3 linked regions of the Homo sapiens genome follow. The protein of the gene in region 3 purifies or fractionates together with the protein of the main gene of each other region. This does not show direct contact. Each region holds a gene or a part of one and is shown on either strand. Other genes may lie near its edges. The genes, in order: FBXO11, PUM3 and ZNF71.

Region 1 (3,751 bases), on a different chromosome or scaffold from region 3:
AGCTGGGTGGTGGTGCATGCCTGTAGCCCCAGCTGCTTGGGATACTGAGGCAGGAGGATTGCTTGAGGCCAAGAGGTTGAGGCTGCAGTGAGCTGTGATCGGGCCACTGCACTCCAGCCTGGGTGACAGAATGAGACCCTATCTCCAAAAAAAAAAAAAAAAGATGTTCATACACCAGACTACCCTCTGACACCCTTTTTAACCTACCTGGTATCTCATGCACTATATTGAGCCGTTCCTCTTCATAGACACACTCCTTGCCAAGCTGCCTTCACCATATATGGTCTCTAACCATGTAGTACCAGTTCCCTTCCCACTCCTCTCAGCAAGTGGATATCCTCCTCACCTTTTTTTAAAAAAAAGTCTTCCACGGCTGGGCGTGGTGGCTCACGCCTGTAATCCCAGCACTTTGGGAGGCCGAGGTGAGTGGATCACGAGGTCAGGAGATCAAGACCATCCTGGCTACCACGATGAAACCCCATCTTTACTAAAAATACAAAAAATTAGCTGGGCGTGGTGGCGGGCGCCTGTAGTCCCAGCTACTCGGGAGGCTGAGGCAGGAGAAAGGCGTGAACCCAGGAGGCGGAGCTTGCAGTGAGCCGAGATTGCGCCACTGCACTCCAGCCTGGGCGACAGAGCGAGACTCTGTCTCAAAAAAAAAAAAAATCTTCCACATTTTATAGAAATCTAACATTTCTTTCATATAGCTATCCAGTTGGTTGGAATTTCATATAAAACTTACATCTGCTCCCTCCCGAATTTGAAGTTTTAAGAAAGTTTTCTGTATCCATAGAACTTTTTTTAAAAAGGGTATAATTTTTCTTATTGCTTTTGTTTATAACAGATGATGATGTGCCTGCAGATATGGTTGCAGAAGAATCAGGTCCTGGTGCACAAAATAGTCCATACCAACTTCGTAGAAAAACTCTTTTGCCGAAAAGAACAGCGTGTCCCACAAAGAACAGTATGGAGGTAACTTTAACTGTAGTTGCTTTTCTTTTTGTAATGAAAGAATTTTCAAGAAACAAAAAAGGGAATGTCATCCTTTTTTAGAAGTAATGATTATGGATGATAAGAATATTTGCTTTACTAGTTTCTGTTTTGTTTTTGAAGGGCGCCTCAACTTCAACTACAGAAAACTTTGGTCATCGTGCAAAACGTGCAAGAGTGTCTGGAAAATCACAAGATCTATCAGGTATTTCCTGTGGGAAAGTAACAAATAGGGTAAAATAATTTTTTTTAATTTTGCTTGATACCAAAAAATGAAAATTAAGTGTATTCGAGTATTACCTTTGGGATTCAGAAAGTGATTATTACAGAATAAACTTTAGAACCCTGACCTCTCCCTCTGACTTTTATTGTTGTATAAAAATGCTTTTTATGTATTTATTTTAACCATTTCTGAGATGGCACATAATACCTAAAAGAAGGAGTACTTTTGTTAGTTCAGGATAGAGATAAATATGTGTTACCCATGAAACCCACATGCTTATAAAATGACCATTATCCAAAAAAAAAAAGCTATTCATTAGATAAAATGAAAACTGTGTTCTTTAAATAATGAGAAAGTTATTGCTCGAATGATAGTTTATATGTTAATCTCTTTATAGCAGCACCTGCTGAACAGTATCTTCAGGAGAAACTGCCAGATGAAGTGGTTCTAAAAATCTTCTCTTACTTGCTGGAACAGGATCTTTGTAGAGCAGCTTGTGTATGTAAACGCTTCAGTGAACTTGCTAATGATCCAATTTTGTGGTAAGTAAAAACCTATTCCTTATTAACTTGAGATATGTTATTTGTTGCCCAAAATGCTAAACATGGTAGGAAAGTCGGTGCGGTGAGTTGGTAGTTACAATTAGTTGGAACAAAATTAAAATGCTTATCAATTCCAAGTTACAAATGGGGGCTGTCAGTCCAGGTGGTATTTATAAATCAGTAAATGAAGTCTTTTATCTGCTGTTTATCAGTTAATAGCAACTGATTGATTATGGGAAATGTTTTTCTTTTAGTAGCTTTTTAGAAACATAACAGTGTAATTTAAAATAGCTAATGAATTTTAAATCTGATAGATTAGAATGTAGGTTTTATATATCACTTTTGGAAAACAGTTGTATTCATGAATCTTTAAATAATTCATGCCCTTTGACCCAGTAATTACTGGGTCATGCCCTTTGACCCAGTAATTCTACTTCTGAAAAGTTTTTTTTGCTTTATGTACAGATTTTTCGTAACAGCCTAGTTAATAATGAGAAAAATTATAAATAATCTAAATATCCAGAATTAAGGGAATGAACTACATAAACTGTGTAATGTGTACTTGGAGAGTTGTGATATAACCACTAATAGTAATTTTTACAAAGAGATTTTCATTTGTTTTTTGAGAGACAGGGTCTTGCTCTGTCACCCAGGCTGGAGTGCAGTGTCACGCTCCTAGCTCACTGCAGCCTCAACCCTCTGGGCTCAAGCCATTCTCCCACCTCAGCCTCCTGAGTAGCTGGCACCACAGGCATGTGTCACCATGCCCAGCTAATTTTTTTTTTTTTTTTTTTTTTGAGACAAAGGGTCTCACTCTGTTACTCAGTCTGATCTTGAACTCCTGGGGTCAAGTGATCCTTCTACCTCGGCCGCCCAAAGTGCTGGGATTATAGGCATGAGCCATTGCACCCAGCCCAGGTTTTTAATAAGATGAAAAAAATGCTGTTATAAAAAGTGAAAAGAGGCCAGGTGTGGTGGCTCCTGCCTGTGGTCCCAGCTACTCCGGAGGCTGAGGCAGGAGGATCATTTGAGCCCAGGAAGTCAAGGCTGCAGAAAGCCGTGATCGTGCCACTGCACTGCAGCCTGGGCGGCAGACGGAGACCCTGTTTTTTAAAGAAAAGAACAGAGTACAAAATTGTATATGCTATATAATCACAACTATAATAAATGATCTGTAGATAAAATGAGTGGAAGCAAATATGGCAGACTGTTAATAGTTAATATATTGAAACTATAGTTCTTTACACTTCTTTGTTTTACAACGGTTATATGTATTACTTTTATGATGCACAAAAGGTGCACCATATATATATATGTTTTTGTTGTTGTTTTTGACGGAGTTTCGTTCTTGTTGCCCAGGCTAGAGTGCAGTGGCACAATCTTGACTCACTGCAACCTCTGCCTCCCGGGTTCAAGCAATTCTCCTGCCTCAGCCTCCTGAGTAGCTGGGATTACAGGCACCTCCCACCATGCCCAGCTATTTTTTGTATTTTTAGTAGAGACAGGGTTTCACCATGTTGGCTAGGCTGGTCTTGAACTCCTGACCTCAGGTGATCCTCCTGCCTGGGCCTCCCAAAGTGCTGGGATTACAGGCATGGGCCACTGTGCCCGGCCCACACCTTACATTTAAGAGAAAAATTACAAAGGAGAAATGAGAATGAAGAGCAGCAGAACAAAACAGCATTGCTCACTGTACCAGAAATGATAATAGTTAGCCATTACTCCAGTTTGAAGATTTCATTGTGCTTGATAGGATATAAATGGACTGAAGATATAGGACAAATTAAGTTCAAAGTATTTTTACTGAAAATTATCTTTTTAGGCTAGGCGAAGTGGCTCACGCCTATAATCCCAGCACTTTGGGAGGCTGAAGTGGGCAGATTACTTGAGCCCAGGAGTTTGAGACCAGCCTGGGCAACATACTGGGACCTCATTTCTACAAAAAAAAATCAAAAAATAAGACAAGAGGATCACTTGAACCTGGGAGGTTAAGGCT
Region 2 (3,751 bases), on a different chromosome or scaffold from region 3:
GTTGCTCACTGTCAGAGAAGGAAGTTACAAATGAGCAAGAGGAGATGCCTGGAGGAAAATATGTGGTGCTTGATTAGATTTGGAAACATCAGTATGAGCTTCAAGTTATTGTAATAGATATAAAAATAAATATAGGTATGTGCATATGCATAAGTTAATATACATATATGTGTTTCCTGAATCTGTCTGCCGAAAGGACATAGAAACAGGGACACCTCAGTGACAACAAGTGCGCCTAGCACTCAGATCTTGGTTTTTAAATACCATTCTCAATGAAAGGAACCAGGATTCCTTGGAGAAGTGGCTGATTTCAGGGCTAGGTTAAGGAAAATACAGAAGGAACCTGGAGCCAGTGCCAGGAAATAAGGATGTGCTTTAAAAGCAAAACAAAACAGTTGGGCCGCGTCAAAAGGACACAGAAGCAACCTGAGAAACTTCCCCCTGGCTGGAGCTAGCATTATTTGAGCAACAAAATAACAGTGGTATTGGATTATAACCAAGGAATGAAATAAATATCTGAGACTATATGATACAAGTAAATAGATGGAAAAGATGGGACAAGTCTTCCCTACAGAAAAGTTGAGAATAACAAAGGCAAAAGTAATAAGAGAAATAGAAGATCACCATTTAAATGCAGTAATTGCTGCAGGCGATATCCACCGACAAATGCTAAAGTTAGCAGGTAAAACTTAGGAGGACATAGGATGTCTACATATTCTCCAAACATCTTGTCTAAAATGTTTATTAATTGCTGTGGTAGTTTAACGTATGCCTGGATTCTTTAGTACCCCTCCTTCTGGGAAGTGGAGCTTAATTTTCCTCTGACTTTGGGCTGGACTTGGTGGTTTGGATCTAATAAAGATGGAAAGGTTAAAGTGGCAACTTCACAGTGGAGAAACCTGGAAAACACTACTTTGACCAAGTGAACACGGTTAACATAAACAGTAATAAGTCATGTTAATGTCATGTACCTCTTGATAGAGTACTACCAGAAGAAAGCTTGACCTCTGGTAGTCTTCCAAAAAATGTGTAGCCTTAGCCTAATCATGAGAAAACATCAGGCAAACCCCAAATGAGGAATATTCTACAAAATACAAAGGAGACTTGATGGCCAGATTCAGTGTATCCTGGTACAGAAAGAGGATATTAGTGGAAAAACTGGTAAACTCCAACTCAACTCTGTAGCTTAGTTAACTGTATGTTAACATTAGGGGAAGCTGGGGAAAGGGTATATGTGAACTGTGTATCTTTTCAACTCTTTTGTAAAGCTAAAATTATTTCAATATAAAAATTAGAACAAACATACAGAGAAAACATGTAAATGAATGGATTCTTAGAAAACTACAGGTGTAGAAGAGCTGAGAGATGCAGGTATGGTTATGATGGCCATAGCCAAGTAATAATGTGACCCTTCAGTTCTAAATGCCCTGAGGAAGCTGAGTAATTCAGGGACTGTCCATTTTTCAAAATCATTAGAAAAGTCTAGATTAGAACAGCACTTTCCAGAGTACTCCTTGGAAGTCTGCTGTTCCCTTATGATGTTCCAGGAAAAAGTGGTTCAACTGGAGTTGGAAAATCCTGCATCCTTTAGCCTTTGCTTGAGAATTGATTGTATATATTAGCAAATTAAAGAATCTGAAAAGCCTTTTCTTACGGGCTGATTCTTGTCATTTAACTTACTGTTTCCCAAATATATTTTATCCCAGAACCCTTCTTTTCTCTTATGGTAATATCCTGAGAAATTAGTTCTTGAATGGGCAATTCTAATCTAGAAATATCTGGTGTTGTCTAGGGATCCCTAACATCTGTTGTTTACAGCCAGCTTTCAAATGAGTTGATCGTCCAACTTTGGAAAGTGGAGAAATGAGCCAAATGGCTTTTTCTCTTGATCTGTTCTGCTGCTTTCAGGGACCTTGGGTAGGTGAGGGGTTATAACTTGTTTATCCTGTGCACCATGGTGTCTCAGTAGCCTATAAAGCGCCTATTAGACAGATTCCTTTCAATGAAATATTAACTATTTCAACATCTTATTTTGGAGTTCACTGCCAATTGCTTGGCTGCGTCTAAAACAATCACAGATTAAACACTGGATGCTAATCTTTGTTTTAGCTGTGTTGGATTGCATAGGAATCTTTCAGATAATCCTTTATTTTCTTATATTAAATGCATGTAGTGGTACATGCAGCCTATTGTTTGTTCCTGGCTTTTTAGGCTCCAAGAAATCAAGCGATAATTTTGTCAGTTATTCATCCCCTAGTCTTCCCAGGTTACAAAATGCAAACTCTGATGCTTATTATACTTAGTGTCAATAGTGGTCTATTTTTAGCCAGTACTATTGTGGAAGTGAAGTGATGCCTCCAGAGATATCAAACACTGGCCAGGGTGTGTGTTGTTCTTAGTTTTTTTATTGATACCTTGTTCATTTTCAGTTTTAAAATTTGAGTCAGTGATTGCAAAATTGCTGGATTTAAGTACTTGTCCATTCTATATCTGGCTGATTTGTATTGTATTTGTAGACTGAAGGACTAAATGTGGCAATGACTATGAAACAGCTCTTATTTGATGAAGAGAACTGCAGTGATTGTTTTTGGTTTTGGTTTTGGTTTTCCAGAGTTGCTACGATGGAAGTTAAAGGGAAAAAGCAATTCACAGGAAAGAGTACAAAGACAGCACAAGAAAAAAACAGATTTCATAAAAATAGTGGTAAGATATGCTTCCCATGTGGGTGTTTGGCTGTTATAATTGGGGGATGGGAGGGCATGTAGTAAATTTCAATCTGTATTCATTGGCTAGGATTAGGATTAAAATAGTAGGAAGAAGTATGTGTTATTGTGTATGAGTTAACATGTTGCTCATGACATTTAGACACTTAAGAAATTGCAAGAATGATTGAGGAATGCCTTATTCATGAAAGACTCCTTATCTCAGTTGTTGCTGCTGTTGCCTCATTTTATTCACACTAGTTCACCATACATTTTATTTTAACATTTGATAAATTAGGACTGTTTAATACATACTGCTCATAAGCCAAATACGTTTAGGTTCAGAATTTATAATGGTGATGTCTTTATTATTCCATCAGGTGTCAGTATTGTAAAACAGAAAAGTCAAGGGACTATACAAATGATTAATGTTTCCTTAATGTTAGCCATTACTGTTTGCATCTCATTTGTTAGGTACTAATTTGTAAGCCTTCTTGATCAAAAGTTTTTGATAAATAATTTTAATATAGGCTTTAAAATTTTCTTAAAACTAGAAAATTTTAAAATTAACATTTTAGATGTCCTTATGATATACTTTCCAAATTTCAAGAATGTTCAAGAAGTCATTTCTTAAGACTTCTTTTGTTATTGAACTCTTGAAAATTCTGTGTAGACCATCATTAAAGCAGAATACAAAGGTATATAAATAATAGCTCTGCTATATGCTTAAAACTAGAGAAACATACCAAACTGACACCAGTGTTTATCTTTAGTGGTAGAATCATGGGTAGCTTTTATTTTACATTTCTCTACTCTCTAGGTGGTTTTATAATCAAGGAAAGAATTTTTTATTTTTGTTTTGATTGTTTAAATCCAGTTCTACTCAAAAGGCTATATGTTGCATATTTGAGAGTAAGACATGGTATTGGGATTAAAAAGTATAATTTTCTGTAATGGATATAATCCAATAGATAAAAGAGATTTGGGCCCAGAATCATTGAACTTATAATTATTATTGTCACTAGATTCTGGTTCTTCAAAGACATTTC
Region 3 (3,751 bases):
GAAAAATATATAGAGAACATAAAATGTACCATTTTAACCACTTATAGGAGTACAGTTCAGTGGCCTTAAGGACATTGATGTTGTTGTGCAGCCATCACCGCCATCCATCCCCACAGCTCTTTTCATCTCCCGCAAATGAAACCCTATCCCCATTAAACACCAACTCCCACCCACTCCTCAGCCCCCGGCATCCTCTGTTCTACCGTCTGTCTCTGGGAATCCGACCTCCAGGTACCGCAGATGAGTGGAATCACATGGCATCCATCCTTTCATGTCTGATTTATTTTACTAAGTCTCTTTGATGGGCTTTGCTTTTTTAAAAAATGTTTTTCATGGGGAAAGTCTGAAATCCCAAGTTTCGTATCGGATGTGTTAGGCTTGGGCTATCCAGTTGAGATGCTGGGCTTTTTTGAACAGTTTGGACATAGCCCAGAAAGCAGGTCTGGGCTGAAGGTGTATGTTTGAGCAGCATCAGCCTGTGGATAACGTTTAGATCCAGACTCACTTTGTGTGGCTTTGAAGGTCCAGTGTGATTCAGGAGAGTGGTCTCAAACTCAGGTGGCCTCAGGAACTACCAGGTGGATCATTTATGTGGAGGAGGGGGACAGCTGCTGCCCCATGCAATGTCTTGTTGCCCATAAGAATGAGGCTCCACGTGGCCATATCTTCATGTTTTTTATGAGCTAGCAGCCACATGGACAGCAACTTTTAAATGCTGGGAATGAGTCCCCTGATGCAGAGTCTAGACTCCACCTAGGCTAGAAATCGAGGTTTAGAAATGAACAGGATACACGTGGAAGGTGATTGAAGCTGTGGGCACAGAGGTATTTAGCCAGGGAGGGTGGATGAGCAGAGAAAGAGGGTCTGAACCCAAGCTCCACGGAATGCCTGCCACCCAAGAACTAGGCAGCGTGTGACGTAGCAACAGAAGCAATTGTGAGACCCCAAGTCATGTGATTATTGTGGGCTCAAGTGAGCGGTCCTGTGTGTATGAACACTTAGTGCTGAGGCTGATGAGAGGGCTGGGGTGCGGGAGGGCTGGGGCCAGCCAGGGCAGGTGCGTGATGAGCTAGCGGGAGCCGGAGCCCCAGCCAGGGGAGAGGATCTTGCAGCCAGCAACCCTGGGGCAGCCATACCAGAGAAGTGGCAAAGGGGCAGGAGAAATGCCCGATTTTTCTCTCATTTCACTTCCAGTTTCCTGCCTTTGGCCAAACACACAGGAAGCCAGTGGGCAAAGTCAGCATCCTGAGCACAGGGCAGGTCAGAGAAGGGTGGAGAATAGAAAGTGGGTCGAAGGAGTAGAGAATAACCAACACATGCCATATAAATGCTAGCTATTTATTATTTCTTTATTCTTTTTCTTCTTTTTTCAATATTTATTTATTTATTTATTTTTTAAGAGACAGGGTCTCACCCTGTCACCCATGCTGGAGTGCAGTGACGTGATCATAGCTCACTGCAACCTCGAATTCCTGGGCTCAAGTGATCCTCCCACCTCAGCCTCTCAAGTAGCTGGGACAATAGGCATGTGCCACCATGCCTGGCTAATTTTTAAAAAAAAATTTAGTAGAGGCGGGGGTGGGGGGTCTCACTATGTTGCCCAGGCTGGTCTCAAGCAATCCTTGCCTCAGCCTCCCAAAGTGTTGGGATTACAGGCATGAGCCACTGTGCCTGGCCATCTTATTATTTCTGATAAAAACTGTTGCTTGAGGAGCACGACTGGTTGTGGATCTGCAGGATGAAGTGAGGAGGCCCTGCAAGTCAGTAGCCGGCTGCAGTCATTCCTACTCAGGTTTGCAGAGCCTGCCCTTTGCTCCCTGCAAGCCCAGCTCACTACTGCAGTTTCTCTCCAGGAGTGCCTGTCATCCCTCTTCTGAAGGGACATTTGCTCTCCCTGTTCACCTCCTGTGTTGACTCTGCTTCATAAACCACATTGGCCTCAGTTCCATGCCTCCCTCCTCCCTCCCTCTCTGATCCAAGGTTCTTCTTTGCTAACTCGCTCTGTGCCTTGGGCCTCATTGGGGTCGGTTTCATTTGCTCCTTCCTGCTGTGGAGCTTCCTCACTCCCAGCATCTTTAACTACATGTATTTGCATCTTCTGTTTTTGTTTTTTTCAGACTGGGAGACTAGACCTGAAATGAAAGAGTTGGATCCAAAGAATGACATTTCGGAAGACAAGCTCTCCGTTGTTGGGGAGGCCACGGGGGGACCCACGAGGAATGGTGCCAGGGGTCCTGGCTCAGAAGGAGTGTGGGAACCAGGCAGCTGGCCAGAGAGGCCGCGGGGAGATGCAGGTGCAGAGTGGGAGCCATTGGGAATTCCCCAGGGGAACAAACTCTTAGGGGGCTCAGTACCCGCATGTCATGAACTGAAGGCATTTGCCAACCAAGGCTGTGTCCTGGTCCCACCACGGCTGGACGACCCCACAGAAAAGGGGGCCTGTCCACCCGTAAGGCGTGGCAAGAACTTCTCCAGCACTTCAGACCTCAGTAAGCCCCCCATGCCCTGCGAGGAGAAGAAAACCTACGACTGCAGCGAGTGTGGCAAGGCCTTTAGCCGAAGCTCGTCCCTGATAAAGCACCAAAGGATCCACACGGGAGAAAAGCCGTTTGAGTGTGACACCTGTGGGAAGCACTTCATCGAGCGCTCGTCCCTCACCATCCACCAGCGGGTGCACACGGGCGAGAAGCCCTATGCCTGCGGGGACTGCGGCAAGGCCTTCAGCCAGCGCATGAACCTCACTGTGCACCAGCGCACGCACACGGGCGAGAAGCCGTATGTGTGCGACGTGTGTGGCAAGGCCTTCCGGAAGACTTCCTCTCTCACCCAGCACGAGCGGATCCACACGGGGGAGAAGCCCTACGCGTGCGGGGACTGCGGCAAGGCCTTCAGCCAGAACATGCACCTCATCGTGCACCAGCGCACGCACACCGGGGAGAAGCCGTACGTGTGCCCCGAGTGCGGGCGAGCCTTCAGCCAGAACATGCACCTGACCGAGCACCAGCGCACGCACACCGGGGAGAAGCCGTACGCCTGCAAGGAGTGCGGCAAGGCCTTCAACAAGAGCTCCTCGCTCACCCTGCACCAGAGGAACCACACCGGCGAGAAGCCCTACGTGTGCGGCGAGTGCGGCAAGGCCTTCAGCCAGAGCTCCTACCTCATCCAGCACCAGCGCTTCCACATCGGCGTGAAGCCGTTCGAGTGCAGCGAGTGCGGCAAGGCCTTCAGCAAGAACTCCTCGCTCACGCAGCACCAGCGCATCCACACCGGCGAGAAGCCCTACGAGTGCTACATCTGCAAGAAGCACTTCACGGGGCGCTCGTCCCTCATCGTGCACCAGATCGTGCACACCGGGGAGAAGCCCTACGTGTGCGGCGAGTGCGGCAAGGCCTTCAGCCAGAGCGCCTACCTCATCGAGCACCAGCGGATCCACACCGGCGAGAAGCCGTACAGGTGCGGCCAGTGCGGGAAGTCCTTCATCAAGAACTCCTCCCTCACTGTGCACCAGCGGATCCACACGGGCGAGAAGCCCTACCGATGCGGCGAGTGCGGGAAGACCTTCAGCCGCAACACGAACCTGACGCGCCACCTGCGGATTCACACCTGAGCGCCTCTGTGCAGGGCTCTCACTGGCGGTGCCCAGGACGGACGCCAGATGGCTGCGCGCTTTGTCAGCAGTGCTGTGAGAAGTTCTCCCCTGGGGTGGGGACTCGGGGTCAGGGGAGCTCAGGAATGTGGGGTTGTGGAGGGG

Evidence for each region.
Region 1: the proteins of ZNF71 (region 3) and FBXO11 purify together in Homo sapiens (affinity purification with mass spectrometry; 2 studies listed by BioGRID and IntAct, with this or other methods). This does not show direct contact.
Region 2: the proteins of ZNF71 (region 3) and PUM3 purify together in Homo sapiens (affinity purification with mass spectrometry; 2 studies listed by BioGRID and IntAct, with this or other methods). This does not show direct contact.

The regions. Positions count from the first base shown.
Region 1 is NC_000002.12:47,836,863-47,840,613, reverse strand, and holds part of FBXO11 (F-box only protein 11), read left to right. Parts: intron 1-844; coding exon 845-972; intron 973-1,113; coding exon 1,114-1,195; intron 1,196-1,610; coding exon 1,611-1,755; intron 1,756-3,751. UniProt on the Homo sapiens protein: Substrate recognition component of a SCF (SKP1-CUL1-F-box protein) E3 ubiquitin-protein ligase complex which mediates the ubiquitination and subsequent proteasomal degradation of target proteins, such as DTL/CDT2, BCL6, SNAI1 and PRDM1/BLIMP1.
Region 2 is NC_000009.12:2,837,378-2,841,128, reverse strand, and holds part of PUM3 (pumilio homolog 3), read left to right. Parts: intron 1-2,611; 5' UTR 2,612-2,621; coding exon 2,622-2,703; intron 2,704-3,727; coding exon 3,728-3,751. UniProt on the Homo sapiens protein: Inhibits the poly(ADP-ribosyl)ation activity of PARP1 and the degradation of PARP1 by CASP3 following genotoxic stress. Binds to double-stranded RNA or DNA without sequence specificity. Involved in development of the eye and of primordial germ cells.
Region 3 is NC_000019.10:56,619,151-56,622,901, forward strand, and holds part of ZNF71 (endothelial zinc finger protein induced by tumor necrosis factor alpha), read left to right. Parts: intron 1-2,117; coding exon 2,118-3,607; 3' UTR 3,608-3,751. UniProt on the Homo sapiens protein: May be involved in transcriptional regulation.